Homo sapiens: one gene and its partners. The protein of the gene in region 1 purifies or fractionates together with the protein of each later gene. This does not show direct contact. Each region holds a gene or a part of one and is shown on either strand. Other genes may lie near its edges.

Region 1 (5,332 bases):
TCACTAGGGCCAGGACCTGTCCCTTGGGCCTGGAGCCTATTACTAGGACCTGGGGTCTGTCACTAGGGCCAGGGGTCTGCCCCTTGGGCCTGGAGCCTGTTACTAGGACCTGGGGTCTGTCACTAGCGCCAGGGGTCTGCCCCTTGGGCCTGGAGCCTGTAACTAGGGCCTGGGGTCTCTCTCACTAGGGCCAGCTGCTGTTTTAAAGGTAGCAGCAGCCTCGGTGCTCCCTTGTTCACTGCCCACGCCCACGCGGGGGTGGCGCCGACAGAGCCTACACGACTGCTCTCCATGTGGATGGCTGTGGGGTGGCTGAGCCTTGCTGGCAGAGGAGGCTGGTGGACAGGCTGTGCTCACATCATCAGCAGTGCTGGGTCAAAGCTGGAGGCAGGAGCCATGGAGTCAGTGGGAGCTACCACCCCTCAGCTCATCACCCCTCCCTGGGGCCTGAGACCTCAGAGCCAGCCCTCGGCCCTGCTCAGGCTCTGGCCTCCCTGAGAACCTCTGTCCTGGTCACAAGTGTCCTGCAGGCCCCCTGGGTTGTGCTGGGCTGGACCAGGCCAGGGTGTGACCTCTGACAGCTCCACCTGCCCTAGAGAAGCCACCAGCAGCTTCTCCAGCTGCACCCGCTGACCCCCAGAGCTCGCTCGCAGGCAAGTGCCCATGGTAGGACAGCTGCTTGTGCCTCAGTCTCCTCATCCTTGAAGGGGTGCAGCCCCCTCCCCATCTCCCTCGCACCCGATGGCCTCATGCAGGCACAGCCCGAGGGAGAACCTGTCTCTGCGGAGAAAGACACTCTGATGGCAGCCGACTGGATTCCACCAGAACCCGAGGGCAAGCATTCCTTGGGAAGTGACCAGGCTGGGAGCATCAGGCACGCACGCCACACACTCAACCCAAACCTTCTGTTAACTCAGGTTCCCAGGAGCCCCGCGTGCTTCTGCCTGGCAGGAGCCGATGCTCGTGCCCTGGAGAACTCCCTGTTCAGGGATGACAATGGGTTCCCTGGTGATTTGGAGGCCTGGGGCCTGGGTGGGAGCTGCTCCCTCTACCCCTGGAGACACTGCCCAGGAATCCAACGTGCTGTGACTGCAGGATGCCCCTGGCAGGGGCCATGCTGGCTCAGACGCCTCTCACCAACCCCTTCCTTCCATGCCCTCAGGGCACTGGCATCCAGGGAGCTGTGAAGGGCACGCTGTGTTGCAAGCTGATTGGGAAACAGGTTGGAGGGGTGGGGGCCGAGGCGCTCAGCAGTATTCAGGCATCTCTCAGCTGGCGACAGGAGCTGTCCCAGGCCCTGCAGGTGGGAGTGCATGCTGGGCAACCTTGGCGGTCCCTGGTCTTCTCTCCATGGGCAGATTCCCCTGCGGATACCCCGGCCTCCACAGGCTCAGCTGGGTGTGCTGCCGCTGGGCTCTTCAGAACCTTTACGCCCAAGTCCTGTCCAGGGGGAGCACCCTCCACCTCGGGCCGGCTGCCATCACAGCCTTCAATCCTGCCCAGAGTCCCTGGAGACTGTTGTCATTAAACCCCACTCCTGTTTAGGAAACCCCAGGGCCAGACCCCACTGCCGGAACAGGACCCTCTCGTGCCTGCAGATGGCAAAGCTCCTGAGGGCCTGATGGACCCTCCAATGTCCCACGGCCACAGTTTCCACCTTGACGCCGAAGCCCTGGGATGGCCCCTCTGCAACGCCCAGTGCTCCATCATGACCTGGCCCCAGGACGCTGACTGAGGGAGCGGAGGGGATCGGGACCAGGGGGAAGCAGCCCCCCAGTAAATCCGAAGCACAGGCACGGCACAGCCCCAAGGGAGACCTTGTAGGCGCCTGGCCAGCAGGGCTGAGGAGAAAGTCTCCACTGCAGGGCGCCTCCTGGGCCCACGCCGTGTGGTCCTGGCCCCAAGCTGCCCACTGGGCATTCAGCCTGGACAGCTCTCGGCGCTGGAGACCCAGAGGACAAGGGGACAGCAACATCAAAGACCACAGCGACCCGAAGCCCCAGAAGCAAAAGCCACTCTCACAGCGGAAGGAGTGGACAGAGCCCCTGTGGAGCTCACCCAGCCCTCCTGTCCCACCAAGGGGCCTTCTAGGACCTGGAGCCCTGCCCTCCTGCCGAGGAGGTGCTTCCCCATTAAACAGGGCCAAGGAACAAGGTGGCTCAGGTCCTGCCATGCCCAGGGTGGACACCGTGCCACCCCGCCAGCCCCCACTCCTTATTTCAGTGCCCATTTGAGCGCAGACGGTTCCTGTTTTTCATTATCATCGCACGGCACTCCTGCTCCGCGGGACTCTCCCTGTGAACCGCCCCACTCTTCTCAGCCCAGGCCGCCTGTCAGGCAGTCAGAGCTCCCAATCAGAACAAAGCCGGCAGTTTTGAGTCTGTGCACATCCCCCTGCAGCACAGGAGGCAGGATGATCAGCCGCTCCAGCCCAGCATCCCCACGGCACACTCGGGAGCACACCCCACCCAGAGGCCAGACAGGTGCACACGGCCGGGGCCGCCCCAGGACACACGTCCAGAGAGGTCACAGTCCTGAAAGGTCACGGTCCTGAGAGGTCACCATCCTGAGAGGTGCCCGGTCCAGAGAGGTCACTGGTCCTGAGAGGTCACTGTCCTGAGGGGTCACTGGTCCAGAGGTCATCACTCTTGAGAGTCACTGGTTGATCCTGAGAGGTCACTGGTCCAGAGGGATCGCTAGGATGGGGTCTCCAGGCCTGGGCTGAGGCTCTGCCCCATAGAAGACCTGAGGTCGGGCTCCTGCTCTCCAGGGACCCTGAAGGCCAGAGCCAAGCCCAGGCTGAGTGCAGTCCCCAAGGAAGTGGGAGGAGGAGGGCAGGGTGGAGTCCTGTGGCAGCGTCCCCAGCACACCACACTTCTATCCTGGTCGTCTCACATGGCGTCCTCCGGCCATCCTGCACTGGGCCACTCGGGACCCCTGCCACTCACCACAACCGCATGGCCTCAGACCTGGGCAGGACAGGGCAGGCTTTGCACACTCCTAAGGCTCATGGGGTGGGAGGGGCCCTGCACAAGGAGCCTTCCGGTAAGGGGGGCAGGGGAGCAGGGGCTGCATGGCCCTGGCCACCTCCACTCACCCTCCCTCCGCCCTCAGAAGAAGAGAGATGGCTGCGGAGGAGCTTCTCGGGTCAACAGGGTGCACCCAGCCCCTGGTGCCCTCTGCCTCTGGGAACCACATCTTGGCCCCCATCTGCAGAGTGTGGTCCTTGCAGCGCCCAGCGTGGCCACTCTGGGGACGGCCACCAGAGCCCATCTGCACTCAGGTGTAGGGATGAGAAGGCGGGGCAGTCTCAGAGAAAACCCTCCCAGGCCACACGGCAGATCCCCTCTGAGTGGGAGACTCAGGATTAAGGATGACAGGGAGACGCAGGTGGGAGGATGGAACATTCCAGAGCACTATGGCTGAGTATCCAGGCCACAGACGCCGGGGCTGCCAGGGCCACCAACTTTGCCACCGAATGGCCACCATGGGATGGAGGTGCCAACAGGGCTCCCGGACTCTGCAAAGGACGCTGTGGCGGAGACTGATACGGGTCTGAGATGGCTGTCCAAGGCCCAAGTGAGAGTTAAACCACATGCCCAGCCAGTGCCCACCACCTGGGCCAACACCATTTCTCTAAAGCACGACACAGGACATTCCACCAACAGAGCATCCCAAAAGGGAATAAAATAGAGATCCCGGCTGGCTCATCCCATCAACCATGTCGGAGACTCGGCGGCTGCAGATGCGGTGGGACCTGCCTCCATTAAAGGCACCTTCTGTGGGGACAGCAAGGACTCTCACGCGGGGCACACCAGGTTAGAGGACACAGCCGGGGCTCTCAAGGGAGGCACAATGGGTTACAGGAGAAAACAGCCGAGGCTCTCAAGGGGGCAGAGCAGGTTACAGAACACTGCAGAACCAGGGGCTGGTCCCTCATCCAGCGCAGCTTCACTGAGTGCCAGACTCACGAGGACCCTGCCCTGCCCCGCCCCAGCCCACTCACTGCCCTTGGGTTACCCTCGGGGCTCCGGGTCCAGGGCACCTGCAGGCAGCTGGAACCAGGGCAGCTCTGGGCCAATGGTGGCCCCATCTAATCCCCAGAACCTGTGAACGCGACCTTGTTTGGAGAAAGGATCTGGAAATGAGATCATCTTGGATTATCCACAGCTGAGCCCTAAATCCAATGGTGAGTGTCTCTACCTAGAAGAGGCAGAAGAGAAGACACAGAGAGAAGAGAAGAAGGTGCTACAGGCTGAATTCGTCCCCTCCAAAATCCACACTGGAACCTAATCCCCATTGTGGTGGCATTAACAGAGCCTTTGGGGGATGAGATTCAGCTATGGGGGCCAGGCTCCTGGGAATGACCGAGTGCCTTATCAAAGGGCTGGGGCATGAGGACATGGCAACCAGGCCCTGTCTTGGAAGCAGGGAAGGGCCCTTGTCGGACGCCAAGCCTGCAGGTGCCTTGATCTTGGACTCTCCAGCCCCCAGAACTGTGAGAAGTGAACATATCATTTCATAAATTACCATGCCTGGTGCTGTTACAGCAACACACACGGACTAACACAGTCGCCATGAGGCCGGGGCTGCAGTGACGCAGCCACACGCCCAGGACAACTGGAGCCACCAGAAGCTAGAAGAGGCAGGGAGCGTCCCACCAAGCCTCCAGAGGAAGCTGACTCATGAGATGCCTGGACGCTGGGCTTCTGGTCTCCAGGAGGATGGGGGAATGCGTCCCTGTTGTGTTAACCCCGGACTGTGTCAATTGTCAGAAGCCTCTGGACACAGTGACACAGCGGGTGGGACCAGAGGCTCAGCACCCCTCATGGGGAACAAAGTCTTTGAGGCCCTCAGGTGGCACTGAGAGACCACAGGGGGCTCCAGAGGCCCTTGGGGGTCCACCTAAGCCAGGATGGGTGTTAGGCCAGGGCTGCCAACAGCACCTGCCTTCTGAGACACATCCAGCCTCTGGTTGCCCATTTTTAGGTGGAGAAAATGAAGGCTGCATACGTGGCTGGTGTGAGGAAGTCAGCTGACGGGAATTTGCTGATTTAAGGGAAGGTTCAGCTGCGTCTGCATGCTAAAGGGCTGTCCTCCAGATCAGATCTAGAAGCTTTGGGAAGGTAATGCAAAAGAATTTCTGATGTTCTTGGCGTGGGGGAAATTTGTTACACGGACACAGAAAGCCTTGTCCTGCAGGAAAAGATTCTTAGAAGGCACCAGATTAAAAGAAAGAACTTCTGTTCGTTGAAAAAATATCATCAAGAGAGTGAAAAAGCAAACCCCAGGGTAGGAGATGTTTGCTATGCACAACAAATGTTGGCTTGTC
Region 2 (5,332 bases), on another chromosome or scaffold:
TGTACTTCGTGAGTTACTAATAACCTTCCGTTTCCTCCCCATTTACAGAGCTGAGTTTCATACTATTGACTGTAGAGTTAAGTCAGAATGGTGTAAGACACAATTTGACTACAGTTAGAATTCTAACAGTTATCTTTCTTTTTAAGAATCTTTTTTATTTTGAGACAGGGTCTCACTCTGTCACCAAGTTTGGAGTAAAGTGACATGATCATAGCTCACTGTAACCTCAAACTCCTAGGCTCAAGCGATCTTCCTGCCTCAGCCTCCTGAGTAGCTGTGACTATGTGTGCGTACCACCATGCCTGGCTATTTTTTTTTTTACTTTTTGTAGAGATGGGATCTTGAACTCCTGGCCTCAAGCGATCCTCTCACCTCAGCCTCTCAAAGTACTGGGATTACAGGCATGAGCCACCATGCCTGGTGAAATAATTATTATCTTAATATAGAATTCCTAGAGAGGAATTTAGCTATATCTATCAATAGCCTTTAAAAATATGTACATTGTTTGACCAGCAAGTCCTTTTTTTTTTTTTAGCACTCTCTCCTAAGGAAATAATCAGAATTATGTCGACAGATTTATCTATGCAGATGTCCAATGCTGTATTGATAGAAAATACTCAAAATAACCTAAATGCCCTATAAGAGGGGATTGGTCAAACCACAGTACATCTTCTGGCTAGAACAAAGTCTATGCAACCATTAAAAATTATATATGACTATTTAACGACATGGGGAAGTAGTAACCACACAGTAAGTGAAAAAGTAGATCACAAAACATATGCCAACAGAAAAAATAATGTATCTGTGAATCTAGGGATAGGATGTACATATGCTAAAATGTTTTATTTATCTTCTCTATTTTCTACCAAAATTTCTATTATAAAATTTAATATTCATTTAAAAAAATTTCATGCATGTTATCTAGGTCTTGTTCCCTTTCACTAATAAGAAACATCCCAAAACCCCCTCAGAAATGACTTTCAGTAAGTAACTGATGGATTGAGGCACTTGGCTATAGCCATCAATTCTCTCTCTGTGTCTCTTTTTTTTTTTGGAAACAAGGTCTCATTCTGTCACCCAGGCTGAAGTGCAATGGCGCGATCTTGACTCACTGCAATCTCCACCTCCTAGGTTCAAGGGATTCTGCTACCTCAGCCTCCCGAGTAGCTGGGACTACAGGCACGTACCCACCACACCCGGCTAATTTTTGTATTTTTGGTAGAGAAGGGGTTTTGCCATGTTGCCCAGGCTGGTCTTGAACTCCTGGCCTCAAGGGATCTGCCCACCTTGGCCTCCCAAAGTGCTGGAATTATAGGTATGAGGCATGGTGCCCAGCCCAATTCTCTTTAAGGTTAATTTTAAGGCGATTCTTCTACTCCCTTTCCACATCTTCAGAAGCTGATACATGATTCAAAGTGTATTAGTAATTGGTTTAAGATCACTCAGGGTACCTCATCTATTGCCATACTCTCAGAATTTCATACACATCCCTTCTACCATTCCCAACTTCTTGAAATATTTCAAGTCAGACATTCAGGCCTAAGACTGGCAAGCAAAAAGAAGTCAGCTAAAGGATGTCACAGATAATATAATCTAAAAAATGAGATGCCATCCTACATTCGCAAGCCACAAATAAAACTGAGACTTGAAAGTTAACATCTTAAGGCTGCATTTTGTGTACCCTGTCGCATATTAAATTGTACCCCACTTTTTAAGTGACACAAAGGGAAATAAAATACGTAACATCAAAATCAAGAAGCAACTCATTCTCTTATATATAGTATTCTCTTCTTTTTCATGTTCCTATTTATCTCCATCCTCTCTTCTCACTCTAATGCCCCAGATATCCTACTTCCAATATTCACTAGATACTTGCAATTTTCATGAATTCTCTCACTGAATTTACTTAATATTGCAGCTTTTACCATCATCATCATCAACAAATATTTATTATATGCCCACTATTGTCACGATACTGTACTAGGCCTAGGGTTTACAGAGATGTAAGATATTGCTATTGGAGTTTTTTGTTTTTGTTTTTGCTTTTTTGAGACAGGGTCTCCTTGTGTTGCCCAGGCTGGAGAGTACAGTGCCATGACCTCGGCTCACTGCAACCTCTGCCTCCCGGGTTCAAGCGATTTTCGTGCCTCAGCCTCCCGAGTAACTGGGATTACAGGCGCATGCCACCGCGCCTGGCTAATTTTTGTACTTTTTTTAGTAGAGACAGGTTTTGCCATGTTAGCTAGGCTGGTCTTGAACTCCTGAGCTCAAGCAATTCTCCTGCCTTGGCCTCCCAAAGTGCTGGGATTACAGGCGTGAGCCACTGCGCTCAGCCTGTTATGTTTTGTTTTGTTTCAGATGCTCTGTTGCCAGGCTGGAGTGTAGTGGCGCCATCTTGGCTCACTGTAACCTCCACCTCCCAGGCTCAAGTGATTCTCCTGCTTCAGCCTCCCAAGTAGCTGGGACTACAGGCACGCGCCAGCACGCCTGGATAATTTTTTGTATTTTAGTAGAGACGGGGTTTCACCATGTTGACCAGGATGGTCTAAATCTCCTGACCTCGTGATCCACCCGCCTCAGCTTCCCCAAGTGCTGGGATTACAGGCGTAATCCTTTTCATTTTTTATTTTTTAATTTTTTTTGAGACGGAGTCTCGCTCTGTCGCCAGGCTGGAGTGCAGTGGCACGATCTCAGCTCACTGCAACCTCCACCTCCCAGGTTCAAGCGATTCTCCTGCCTCAGCCTCCTGAGTAACTGGAACTACAGGCGTGCACCACCACACCCAGCTAACTTTTATATTCTTAGTAGAGATGACGTTTCACCATGTTGGGCAGGATGGTCTCAATATGACCTCGTGATCCACCCGCCTTGTCCTCCCAAAGTGCTAGGATTACAGGCATAAGCCACTGCGCCCAGCTTTTTTTTTTTTTTTAAGAGTTGCAACAAGGCCGGGCGCGGTGGCTGACGCCTGCAATCCCAGCACTTTGGAAGACCGAGGCGGGTGGATCACAAGGTCAGGAAATCGAGACCATCCTAGCTAACAGTGAAACCCCGTCTCTACTAAAAAAAAAAAAAAAAAATTAGCTGGGCGTGGTGGCAGGCGCCTGTAGTCCCAGCTACTTGGGAGGCTGAGACAGGAGAATGGCGTGAACCTGGGAGGTGGAGCTTGCAGTGAGCCTAGATCGCGCCACTGCACTCCAGCCTGGGTGACAGAGCGAGACTCCATCAAAAAAACAACAAAAAAGAGTTGCAATAAAACATATTCAAACAACATAAATAATAACATAAAGTAGCACAGACAATATGTCCCATTGGTACAGACAGCCTAGTTCCTCCTTAAACTTCTATTACATTTTAAAAATTCTCTTCATATCAATTAGCACTTAACCTTCCTGAAGCCTAGGTGATAGGATTTTCTCTGGACAGATATATGCCAGGTTATTCTGACCATTCAGGGAAAAATACCTGGCTATAACAACATCTGAAGGACACCTAAATGCTTGCATGCTATACAGGATCTTTTCTGTTTCTCTGTCTATCCCCCAAATGTGCAGGTAAAGTCAGAAAAAATCCAAGCAATTTTATCAGTCAAATGGAATAAAGACTAAAGTGAAATAAATAATATTTTCATTTGAAATCACTAGGGTGGAGAGTCAGAGGCAGTATGTTGATTTTTTTTTTTTTTTTTTTTTTTTGAGATGGAGTCTTGTTCTGTCACCCAGGCTGGAGTGCAGTGGCACAATCTCGGCTCACTGCAACCTCCACCTCCCAGGTTCAAGCTATTCTCCTGCCTCAGCTGTCCAAGCGGGTGGGACTACAGGCACATGCCACCATGCCGGGCTAATTTTTGTACTTTTGGAAGAGACGGGGTTTCACCATGTTGGCCAGGCTGGTCTTGAACTGACCTCAAGTGGTCCATCTGCCTCAGCCTCCCAGAGTGCTGGGATTACAGGCATAAGCCACCACACCTGGCCACCCTCATTTCTAAGTTAAAAAAAAAACAAAACAAAAAACCCAGAAAATTTCAAATGTACAAATATACATGCATTTTCTAAATACATAACAAAGCTTTGTGATGTAATATAATAGTTATGGCAATGGAAGCTCATGGAGAAGGCCTATTTAAATGAACACATATAAAAGTAAAGATAAACACAAGACAATGCTTACCAATGGCTGGTTTCGGAGTAAATGTCAACAAAGTAACTCCCACAAATTTAGTTAGGAAAATTAGTTTCTCTTAAATTTGAGGAAATATTTTCCTCTACATGTATGTTATGGTCCAAACAAGCTAGATTTTTAACTTCGACCCAATTATGTTTTGCAGATTTTAGGTAACAGACTTGCCTGAGAACAAATAAAAGCTCTATTTCATTTTATTAATTTTAATACCTAAATGAATAAAAATATATCTGAGTTTAAAATATTTTATTAGTTTTAAAATTTATTATCACTAACTAAAAAAAAATGGATTTCTTCCCATCTCTTTTAAGATTTTTCTGATTACTCAGAGTTCATGTTTGCTTCATTATACGTCACCCAACTTGGGTTACAGTTGCCCATATATTTGTGTGGATGTCTGGATGCATGTGCATACACACAGCTTAACATTTACAACTCCATTTACAATGCATAGAATGACTTCCAAATTCCAGGCTCCCACACATGAGCAGTAGCGTATCTATCAAATATGCTTTTAATTTGAAGTTATCTCAATAACCATTTTATAAACAGAAATGTATCCCCCATATCAAGAGAGATCACTACTGTACCTGAATGTCAATTTTTTGTTGTTGGTGAAACTTCAAAAAGTTCAATGTATGTAATATCACAAGTAATTAAAAAAGGGAACATTTCAATTATGATAAACATAAACTGTGATGACATGGAATATAACTCATATTTTAATCTTAATGCCTTATTAATCTAGATTCAAATTATGGTTGAATTAGCTACAAGTCAGGTACCCAAATCAAGAACCTACTATTCATTCCAGCTTAATCTAGTTTAAATTCCTGTTGCATTTCAGGTTCAAAAAATTCACACAAGTGATTGTGACTTTGACTAGTGATACAATTATTGGTATTAACAACAATGGAAATCGTGAGCTTCTTCCTGCATACATTTTCACTTTCTCAATGTTTAAATGAAAATTTGTTCAGAATACAAAACAAAATAGCACATTGTAAGAACTAAGAATTTCCCTTTGGCTAGAATGGACAAGTAGAAAAACAAATATAAAAGTATACTTTGTTTTATGTATTCAATGATTTTATTCTATCTAATATTTATTAGATAAATTTGAGAACAGTGAGTTAAGTATTAATATAAA
Region 3 (5,332 bases), on another chromosome or scaffold:
CCCTGTCTCAAAAATAAACAAACAAACAAACAAAAATTGCCCAACTTCTACCTTCCATTAGAACTGCAACCCAATTTCCTGCTGCCTGAGTTGTATTGGGCCTGCAGCTTCATTTCCATCTGACTGCTCAGATCCACATCCGAATTCTGGCCAGAACCTCTGCCTAATTTCTAATATCTCTGTTGCCTTTTTCATTAAATTCGCCCCCATCAAATTAATTTCAGAAAAGTCATATGATTTCCATCAGAGACCTGTTATCTAAGTTCTTTTTTTTTTTTGAGATGGAGTCTCACTCTGTCGCCCAGGCTGGAGTGCAGTGGCGCGATCTCGGCTCACTGCAACCTCCGCCTCCCGGGTTCAAGCGATTCTCCTGCCTCAGTCTCCTGTGTAGCTGGGATTACAGGTGCCCGCCACCATTCCTGCTAATTTTTGTATTTTTAGTAGAGACGGGGTTTCATCATGTTGGTCAGACTGGTCTTGAACTCCTGACCTCATGATCTGCCCGCCTCGACCTCCCAAAGTGTTGGGATTACAGGCGTGAGCCACCGCACCTGGCCTTGTCTGTCGTCTAATTTCTATCTACACCACAGCCAAATTCCTCTCAGACTTCTCAAAATTCCCTTTAGACCCTTGATCTGGATTTAGGCAAAACTCACAGTTTTAGGAGAACCACTGCCCAATATCTATTGGAAGCTTTTTTTTTTTTTTTTTTTTTTGAGACAGAGTATCACTCTTGTCACATAGGCTGGAGTGCAATGGCGAGATCTGGGCTCACTGCAACCTCCTCCTCCCGGGTTCAAGTGATTCTCCTGCCTCAGCCTCCCAAGTAGCTGGGATTACAGGTGCCCGCCACCAGACCTGGCTAATTTTCGTATTTTTAGTAGAGATGGGGTTTCACCACGTTGACCAGGCTGGTCTTAAACTCCTGACCTCAGATGATCCGCCTGCGTTGGCCTCCCAAAGGGAGCCACCACGCCCAGCCAGAAGCTGTTTAATATCTGTGAGACCTTCTAAGGTACCACTTTTCCCTGCCAATACCTGATTTCTATATATCATTCCATCAGTCCATTTTCTATCTGCTCCATTATCTAATTTCTTCCTGTTCTGTAGTCCGCTTTCTGTCTGTGCCACTGCCTAATTTCGACCTGCTCCACAGCCTGATTTTTGCCCACTCTGCTGCCCACAGCTGTCCAGGCCCTCCCACCTGCCCTGATGGCCACCGGCGCCCCACCTGGGACACGAGGAGCTGCAGGTCATGCTCAAAGGCTCTCAGGGTCCGCTGCATGGAACTGGCACTGGGTCTCGGCTCAGGCGGGGTGGTCAGGCGGGGCAGCCGCCTCCGCTTCTCCTCAATCTGTCCCTGAAGCTCTCGGGCGTCACTGAAGAACTTATGAAGCTCCCGAGAGGCGGCCAGCAGCTGGGCCCGTGTGCCCATGAGCTCCAGCAGCTCAGCCCAGGCCTCGTTCAGTCCGTCCTTCCACTCGGCCATGGTGGCCGCTGCTGTATGGCCACACTCGATCAGCTCATCCACCATCTGGTTCACAGCTGCCAGCCGTTCCCGCCCTGCCATACCTGTCTCGCTGGCAAACTCTGAGAATTTCTCCTGCAGCACCTGCCATCAGGAAGTGGGGGGGGGGGTACAGCAAAGTGAGCAAAGGGGCAGCATACACCAGCCCCCTCCAGCCTACAATGTTTTTTTTTCTTTTTGATACAGAGTCTTGCTCTGTCGCCCAGGTTGGCGTGCAGTGGTTCAATAGCCACTTACAGCAACCTTCACCTCCCCAGTTCAAGCAATTCTCCTGCCTCAGCCTCCCAAACAGCTAGGACTACAGGCATGTGCCACCACACCCAGCTGATTTTTTTGTGTTTTTAGTAGAGACGGGGTTTCACTATGTTGGCCAGGCTGGTCTCATACTCCTGACCTCAAGTGATCCACCTGCCTTGGCCTCCCAAAGTGTTGGGATTACAGGCATGAGCCACCACACCTGGCAGAGGCTACCATTTTGTGGCAGGTAAGAGTAATGATAATCATCATCATCATCATCATCATAAAAAATAATATCTAACACTTACTGAACACCTGGCAAGAATAGTAACAAAACAGTAACAATAAAAATAACAATAAGTAACAATAAAATAATAAGCTGATAATAATAACCAACACTGTGTGAGGCAGCATGTGTGCCAAGCAGGGTCCTCAGTGCTTTACGTTATATTAACTCATTTGTCTCACAGCAGAGCCATGAGGCGGGTGCTGTTATTATCCTCATACTACAGATGAGGAAACTAAGGCCCAGAGAACCTTAGTGGTAGCTCCTGGTATCACTTATTACTAATGATGCTCACCGAGACATGCTCAAAGTCCTGGCCGAGCTCGGGTGAGCCAGCCACCACCTCCTTCTCGGCAATCCAGTGCTCAAGCTCGCTCACCTGGCGGCTGAGCTGGTACAGCCAGTACTGCTGTTCCAGAGCCACCCGGCGCTCCTCACCCAGCTCCTTGAGCGCCACGTACAGGCGGTCCACCTGAGACTGCCGCCGGCTGATCTGCTCGCTGAAGGGGGACATGGAGGGGCAGGGATGGACCCCTGAGACTTCTGGGGCAGAGCGTGACCCCCCTAAACCCCCTCCCCAGGACAGGGCTGTGTTTCCTTGGAATCTTCAGACACGGCTGTGTCCCCAGGTAGAGCTCTGTTTTCTTTTCTTTTTTCTTTTTTTTTGGAGACAGGGTCTTGCTCTGTTGCTCAGGCTGGAGTGCAGTGGTGTGATCACAACTCACTGCAGCCTCCACCTCCCATGCTCAAGCAATCCTCCCATTGCAGCCTCCCAAGTGGGACCACAGGCACGTGACTCTACACCTGGCTAACTTTTTGATTTCTTTGTAGAGATGAGGTCTCACTATGTTCCCTCTGTTCTCAAACTCCTGGGCTCAAACGATCCTCCTGCCTCAGCCTCCCAGTGTTGAGATTACAGGTGTGAGCCACTACACCTGGCCAGGACTCTGTTTTCTGCAAGTCTTGGGTTCAGAAAGCCCTGCATTTCAGCATGCAGGGAAAGCTCCGCTTCCCTAAATGGATAAGCTCACCTCTATCCAGCCTCACCCAGTTTCCTTTCTTTTTTTTTCTTTTCTTTTTTTTTTTTTTTTTTTGAGACGGAGTCTTGCTCTGTCACCAGGCTGGAGTGCAGTGGCGCGATCTCGGCTCACTGCAACCTCTGCCACCCAGGTTCAAGCCATTCTCCTGCCTCAGCCTCCCCAGTAGCTAGGACTACAGGCACGTGCCACCATGCCCAGCTAATTTTTTATTTTTAGTAGAGACAGGGTTTCACCATGTTGGCCAAGCTGGTCTCCAACTCCTGACCTCAAGTGATCCGCCCACCTCGGCAGCCTCACCCGGTTTCTATCTCAGTCTCACGCCCCTCCTATCCAGGAACCTCGGTGGGACTCTGGACTCCCAGGTTGGGTCCCCAGCCAATGCATCCCACCTCTAGCCCCAATCTCTGAGCCCACTTGGACAGAGGTCTCTCTCTGTACCTCCTTACAGATTCCATCCCTGGTCCAGGCCTGGAGCTCAGCATCCGCCTACACGAGGCAACATCACCCCACTGCACCAGGAGGTCTCCAGCCCCACCGCCATAGCCAATCTCAGCACAGGCTTTTCTGTCCTCCCAGACACTGAGTAGAAAGAGCCCCTTGCCTGTCCTGAGTAAATTCTTCTCTACCCCAGTCCTAGACATCGCCTACTCTTTTCTCCCCCGACAAGGTCCCCACTACTACACTCAAATCCAGGTGCTCCTGGCCCCACCCTCTCAACCATCCCTGAGCCGTGTCCCCCCATTCCGGCCCGCCCACTTGCCAAATTCGAGGGCTCCAGCACACAGCAAGGAGGACCTCTCCCACCCAACGTCCAATTCCAGCGCTGCGCCAACTCCCAACAGCGAAGCTTCAGGTCCTGCTGGACCATTCCTGTGAACTGGCCACGCGCCCGCCCACCTGTCCGGGTGCCCCATCTCCAGCAGCGCCCGGCACTGGCGCGACAGCTGCGCGATGCTTTCCTCGTAGTTCTCCACGCCTTGCTCCAGCTGCAGGTGTTTCTTGAGCAGCTGCAGGGTGCTCTGTTCGTCCTGGGGGCACAAAGCGCCCACGATGAGGCGGCAGCGGCGGCCCCCGGCTCCAGCGCCCCCAGGCCCTCCGCACCCCCAGCTCGGGCGCACCTTGCCCTTGTCCTCACTCATCATGAGCAGCTCCTGCTCGCCCAGCCACGCCTCCACCTCAGCCACGTCGAAGTAGTACTGCTCCACCTGGAAGGCGGCGTCCAGCACCTGCTGCCGTCGCTCGGCAGCCTCCCGCAGTCCGGCCCAGGCGCTCTGCAGCTGCTCCAGGCCCCGGCGCACTGCCTCTGCCTCCGGGCTGCGCAGCGACGCCAGCGCGCCCGCGCGCTCCAGCACCTCCTCCAGGCGCGGCCCATGCGCCTGGATCTCCCGCCGCAGGCCCTGGGGGCAGGAGGTAAGGGGATGTGGGTGGAGAGGGGGCGTTCCGAGGCCCTGCAAGACCACACGCTCCTCTGCTACTGGCACGGCCCACGGGGCAATTAACAAGCACCCCCAGCTCGCTAACCACGTGCCAAGACCATGTAAACATTTTGCTGATACTCCCTCACTCATCATAACCCTATGCTTGCTGCAGGTGGGAAAACAGGCACAGAGGGGCGAAGTACGGCGCCCAAGAACAAGCAGCCAGTAAGGAGTGACAGGATTTGAACACAGGAGGCTGGTTCCAGAGACTGTGCTCTGAGCCAAGCCGCTTGCCGACCCAAGATGGGCCCTAATACAGAAACCCTGCAGCTTAGCAGCCGAGGTATCATTTGTATACGGTAGAGTGCACAAATCTTAGGTATACAGTTGCACACATTTGTACAGACACATACACCGGTGTGCCCAGATCAGCGTGCGGAACACTTCCATCCCCCAGAAGGTTCCCTCAACCAGCTCTGTACTTGCAGAGTACCTTATTTAACGTTTTGTGTGCCTTAACCTTATTTACTTACAGAGTACCTTATTTAACTTTTTGTGAGTCTTTTTTAACTTTTTGTGTGCCTTAACGTTATTTAACTTTTTGTGTGACTCAACTGATAAAGATAATAACAGCCAGCAAGTCCTCTCCTTATTTTGCTTTTTTAGAGACAGGGTGTCACTCTATCACCCAGGATGGAATGCAGCAGCTTTAAACTCCTGGGCTCAAGTGATCCTCCTGCCTCAGCCTCCCAAGCGGCTGGGACTACAGGTGTGCACCACCATGCCCTGCTATTTTAAAAAATATTTTTGGAGAGACGAGGTC
Region 4 (5,332 bases), on another chromosome or scaffold:
AAATCCCTAAGAAGAAGTTAGGTGGGTGCTATTTTCCCATGTTACAGAAAGGAAACTGAGGTTTACGGAGGTTACTCAAGGTCATATATCTGAAGTGGTAGTTGGATGTAGGTTTTCCAACTTCAAATTCAGCCCTCCTTCTAACATCACACTGCCTTTCTTTCAACTCAAGATTCCTCCTGGCTATTAAATTTGGATTATCTAATCTGTGTCCAATATAATCAATTTTATTTTCATTCTCTTTCTAAATATGAACTCTGGGCACAGAAGAACTGGCATTCTACATATTCACTCATGGTCGTGTTTTTGTGCTGCCTTCCTCTCCTTCCTCCCTCTCCTCTGAGGTCTGGTTCAAGTTCTCACTCTCTTTATGAAGACCTGAACGACGGCCCTGTGGTAACTGCACGTAAGTCTCATTCTCTGACTTCACCCAGCATATGTGGCTTGTACTTGAAATTATTGCCCGCCATCTTATAATGTCTTCTACACATTTCACACATGCTAATTTGCTTTCATCAAACTATAAATTAGAAAAACTTCGCCTCCTATTTCTCTACAGCATTCAGCACAGCTAAATGCTAGGAATAAGCTAGTGTTGATTGGTTTCATTAGATTTCTTAGTTGATATGAGAGAATTTTTTTGACCTTAGTGAATCAGATAGATGGAAGCCATAGGTAGATAATGTTCCTTGCTTCTCTCTTTCTCTCCCTCACTCTCCCTGTTTCTTTCCTCCTCTTCTACTAGCACCTGCATTCTCTTTCTGTGTAACTTAATTACTATCATTCAGGATTAATTGTTAAATAGCTGTTGTGGTCTACATTTTGCTAAATTTTGGTGCTGCTATCCAGTCTTTGTTTTGTTTTGTTTTTTATTTATTTTTGAGACGGAATTTCGCTCTTGTTGCCCAAGCTGGAGTGCAACGGTGCGATCTTGGCTCACTGCAACCTCCACCTCCCAGGTTTAAGTGATTCTCCTGCCTCAGCCTCCTGAGTAGCTGGGATTACAGGCGTGCACCACCATGCCCAGCTAATATTTGTATTTTTAGTAGAAATGGGGTTTCACCATGTTAGCCAGGCTGGTCTCGAACTCCTGACCTCAGGTGATCTGCCCGCCTCAGCCTTCCAAAGTGCTGGGATTACAGGCATGAGCCACCGCACCTGACCTCCAGTCTTTATCTCTGCAGAAAAGGCTGGTAAAGTGATTTTTTTTCTTTTTGGAATAAAATATTCACAAATGCTTAACACTGGTAATCACAATACTTCCCTCATGATTCTGTGAAGGAAAAGAGATGTAAATGAATCATCCTGTCTTTTCAAGAAACAGCAGAAAAATGGTTGGAGTAGATTTAACTCCAGTGACTTTCTACACAGCATTTGGGAAAAATCCCTAAGTCCCTAGATGCAGCAATTAAGTCAAATTTCTAGGGGTACTGGCAGGACAAAGAGGATAGTAACCTACCCCAGAGGTCACTGGGCAAAAGTCTGGGTCCAGCAGTCAGGCTAAGCTTCAGCCATAAAGAGATGCGATGGTCATGCCTATGATGGGACTGCAGGGAAATTAGGAAGGGATTCTTTGTCCCAAACTATTTCTTTCATATAGCCTTAAGTTTCACACCTGGAAGATTAGTTAGATTTATCTATTGCTACTTTAAAAATACCCATTCCTCTGAAAAGATTAAAGAAAGCTTGGTCGGTCCCAACCTGTGTAAACACGTTTGAGAGTTTCTCTCAAACAGCCCCATTCAGGCAGCTTAGTTTATAGTACTGGTTCTCAAACTTGCCTCCCCACTGGAATCATCGAGGGAGATTATTTTTCAAACACTGATGCCTGGGTCCACCCTCAGACATTCCGATTTCTTACGGAGAGTGCCCTGGGCATCAGGATTTTTTTTAAAAAACCACGTGATCCTAATATGCAGCTAAGTCTGAGAATCATGATTTTATAGGGAAGAAAATTGCTCTGGAATGAAATAGGCCTAGTTTTAATCCCAGAGTGATGCTTGCCAGCAGTGTTGCTTTGGACCAATTTGTTTGTTATTTAACCTCTCCAAGCACTTATTTCCCTCACTATAAAAGGAGAGCAAGAATATTGTCCATTCAGAGTTGTTATGAAAGGTAACACAATGATTCACATAAAATGTTAGGCAATGATTATGCACTCAAATCTTTTTTTCTCTACCTAGGAATGTGGATTTTCATGAGTGGAGGAGTGTTTGGTGGTATAAATATCTTTGGATAATCTGGAGAGTGGAGAAACCTGTTTGGGGCACCAAAAGCCTGGGAATTAAGGCAGAACACTGGGGGACTTGTCTATCTCCCTCTCCCTCTCTCTCTCTCTCTGTGTATGACGATGAGGGGGCAAATTGCCAAGAGTTGCAAGAGTGGCAAAACAAAGTGGATCATACAGATCCAAAGAGAAATTTGGTTCCTACTCTCTCTTAGCTAGGGTTTTCCATGTCCTAAATTGTCCTTTGTATCTTTATTTAAGAAAGAATTAAAACTGCACAGCTCAAGGAGTGTCCAGACTCCCAAATCCACAACTGTTGAGTAGCCTGCCTTCCTCATTCTAGGTCCATCTGAAATCTCCTGGTTTTCCCAGTATACTGACCTGATCTTCAGAAAGAGGAACTGTGTGCACCGGGATGGGCTGCCAGAGTAGGATAGGATTCCAGATGCTGACACCTTCTGGGGGAAACAGGGCTGCCAGGTTTGTCATAGCACTCATCAAAGTCCGGTCAACGTCTGTGCTTCGAATATAAACCTAGAGTAGGAAAATCAAAGCAGAAGCGAACGTAAAGGGAGCATGAGGTTTTTTTCTACAGAGCTGCCAAGGTATTAGAGAAAGGAAAGGACACCCACAGTGAAATATTACAGACATTGTGCTAACATCAGAATCATAATACTTGTTAAGGAATGAGCAATATTATGATCATGGTACAAAGCAACCTGGTTGGCCAATAGTTGAATTGACAAATGAGATCAATTAAGCAGTGGCTACTTGTCAAGCCAAAGTATTTATTCAGGTGTTCATAAAATCTTGAAATTACTCATATTCACAAACTTTTTGGAACAAAAATTTGCATAAAGAGGAATATATTTGTAAACAAGACCTCTGACTTGTATAAGTTCCTTGGAAAACAGGCAAAGCACTTTTATATATGCAGAATTATTTTAATTATTTCAAAGATCAAAGTTCCCACTCTTGGCTCCCCAACTTGCCTGTTCATGTTTATAGGACTCATTCAAGAATTTTCTATATCTCTTTCTTATATACTCTCCAAGTTCATAATGCTGCTCCATGCCCAGCTATGGGAAAAAAATAAAAGCAAAAATTAATGAAAGTAAGTTCTATGAATCACACTATCATAAAAATTTGTTGATTTTTTTTTTCATTATGTGTGTAGAATGAACAATGGTGTGGTTTAATAGTTCCACAATAATGACACATATTTAAGTGAAAACAAAAGAGCTGTACTCTTTAGTTACAGTTCCCTGACTCCCTGAGAAAACTCATTTATCTTCATTAGCACTTAACATAGAGACTTGCACATAGTAAGTGCTTAGTTGATAGTTGGGTGATTGATCTGATTTAAGTAAATGGTTCATCTCTGATGTAGTGGGATCCTTGTTGGTAGAGCATTCAAAGAGACCCACTTGGTGGGGATTTTGTGGAAGAAGCTCAACCATCTGATGAGATTAGACTCGATGAATCTGAAAGTCTCTTTCAACCTCTGTGGGCAATGCTTTACTATCTGCCCAGTTTATTAATTCCTGGTTCATAAAAAAATTAGAACATGTTACTCTAAGTGTGGTCTGTATTGGCTTCACTTAAAAGCATTATAGAAATCAAATTCTTGGGCCCCACCCTTGACCTACTGAACCAGAACCTTTGGGGGTGGTGCTCAAGAATATTTTTTAACAAGCTTCTGATGGACAGTAATCACTGAGATGCACTGCATTAGCTCAGTGGTCCACAACCATTACCGTGCATCAGAAACAAAATTATCCAGCGGTGCATGTTGAAATGCAGATTCCTCAGCATCTCCATCAGAGATTCCAGCTCATTAGTTCCTGAGTGGGGCCCTGACATCTGCATTTTAACAAGTCTCCCAAGTGATTCAGATGCATGTAGTAGAGCACCATGCTTTGGAAATGCAGCATTCAAGTTTGTCTTTAATCCAGAGCCTTACTAGAGCTTTGGGAGCCAGAGAGGAGGTTGTTACGGTGGCTGCTGCTTGGTCCCACTTGTCATTTGCTTGTCACACTTGTCATTTGCTTGACCACCACTATAATCACTTCCCATCTACGATAGGGACAAGGTGGGAAAGGAATAATATACCGTGACCTGAGTAGCGGAGAAGCAGGTACTTTAGGTCTAATTGTGTTCTTACAGCTGACTTTTTAAATAGTCGTCTGTATGAAGCAGTGATTTTCACACTTTAGCATGCACAGAATCACCTGGAGGACTCAATAAAACACAGACTTCTGGGCTTTAATTCCAAAGTTTATGGTTCACTGGGTATTGCGTGAAGAATTTACATTACTGAGAAGTTCCCACGTGATGGTGATGCTGCTGGTCCAGGGACCACACTTTAAAAACCACTGATCTAGACAGCCATCATCTTATGATTATGCAGATTAAAAATACCTAGACAAGGCAGATTAAAAGTACCTAGACACTGATCTAGACAGCCATCATCTTATGATTATGTAGATTTAAAGTACCTAGACAAGGCTGGGTGTGGTGGCTCAGGCCTGAAATTCTAGCACTTTGGGAGGCCAAGGCGGGTGGATTGCCTGAGCTCAGGAGTTTGAGACCAGCCTTGGCAACATGGCGAAACCCCATCTCTACTAAAAATATAAAAAATTAGCCAGGCGTGGTGGTGCTCTCCTGTAGTTCCAGCTACTTGGGAGGCTGAGGCACGAGAATTGCTTGAATCTGGGAGGCAGAGGCTGCAGTGAGCTGAGATCGAGCCACTGCACTCCAGCCTGCGGGGACAGAGTGAGACTCCATCTCAAAAAAAAAAAAAAAAAAAAAAGTACCTAGACAAGGGTAGGAATCTGAGCCCTAGAACCTTGTCACTTCAAATGTGGTCCATGTACCAGTGCCATTGTCATCCTTGGGAGTATGTTAGACATGCAGAATCGCAGGTCCCACATCAGACCTGCTGAATTAGAATCTACATTTTGACAAGATTCCCAAGTGATTCATTTGCACATGGAAGCTTGAGAAATACTGCCCTAATAGAATCTGATGGGTAATCAAGGTTCTTCAGAAGAAGAACTCAGATCCTGCAGCCTAGAAGAATCTTTTGGTCTTAATGGGAAAACA

Evidence for each region.
Region 2: the proteins of TPPP (region 1) and KLHL24 purify together in Homo sapiens (affinity purification with mass spectrometry; one large-scale study listed by BioGRID and IntAct). This does not show direct contact.
Region 3: the proteins of TPPP (region 1) and SPTBN4 purify together in Homo sapiens (affinity purification with mass spectrometry; one large-scale study listed by BioGRID and IntAct). This does not show direct contact.
Region 4: the proteins of TPPP (region 1) and ACP3 purify together in Homo sapiens (affinity purification with mass spectrometry; one large-scale study listed by BioGRID and IntAct). This does not show direct contact.

What each region holds. Positions count from the first base shown.
Region 1 is NC_000005.10:682,501-687,832, forward strand, and holds part of TPPP (tubulin polymerization-promoting protein), read right to left. Parts: intron 1-5,332.
Region 2 is NC_000003.12:183,644,725-183,650,056, reverse strand, and holds part of KLHL24 (kelch-like protein 24), read right to left. Parts: exon of another isoform or gene 4,171-5,332; intron 1-4,170. UniProt on the Homo sapiens protein: Necessary to maintain the balance between intermediate filament stability and degradation, a process that is essential for skin integrity.
Region 3 is NC_000019.10:40,553,303-40,558,634, reverse strand, and holds part of SPTBN4 (spectrin beta chain, non-erythrocytic 4), read right to left. Parts: intron 4,489-5,332; coding exon 4,210-4,488; intron 4,120-4,209; coding exon 3,989-4,119; intron 2,552-3,988; coding exon 2,347-2,551; intron 1,613-2,346; coding exon 1,232-1,612; intron 1-1,231.
Region 4 is NC_000003.12:132,329,621-132,334,952, reverse strand, and holds part of ACP3 (prostatic acid phosphatase isoform PAP precursor), read right to left. Parts: intron 3,307-5,332; coding exon 3,220-3,306; intron 2,762-3,219; coding exon 2,609-2,761; intron 1-2,608. UniProt on the Homo sapiens protein: A non-specific tyrosine phosphatase that dephosphorylates a diverse number of substrates under acidic conditions (pH 4-6) including alkyl, aryl, and acyl orthophosphate monoesters and phosphorylated proteins.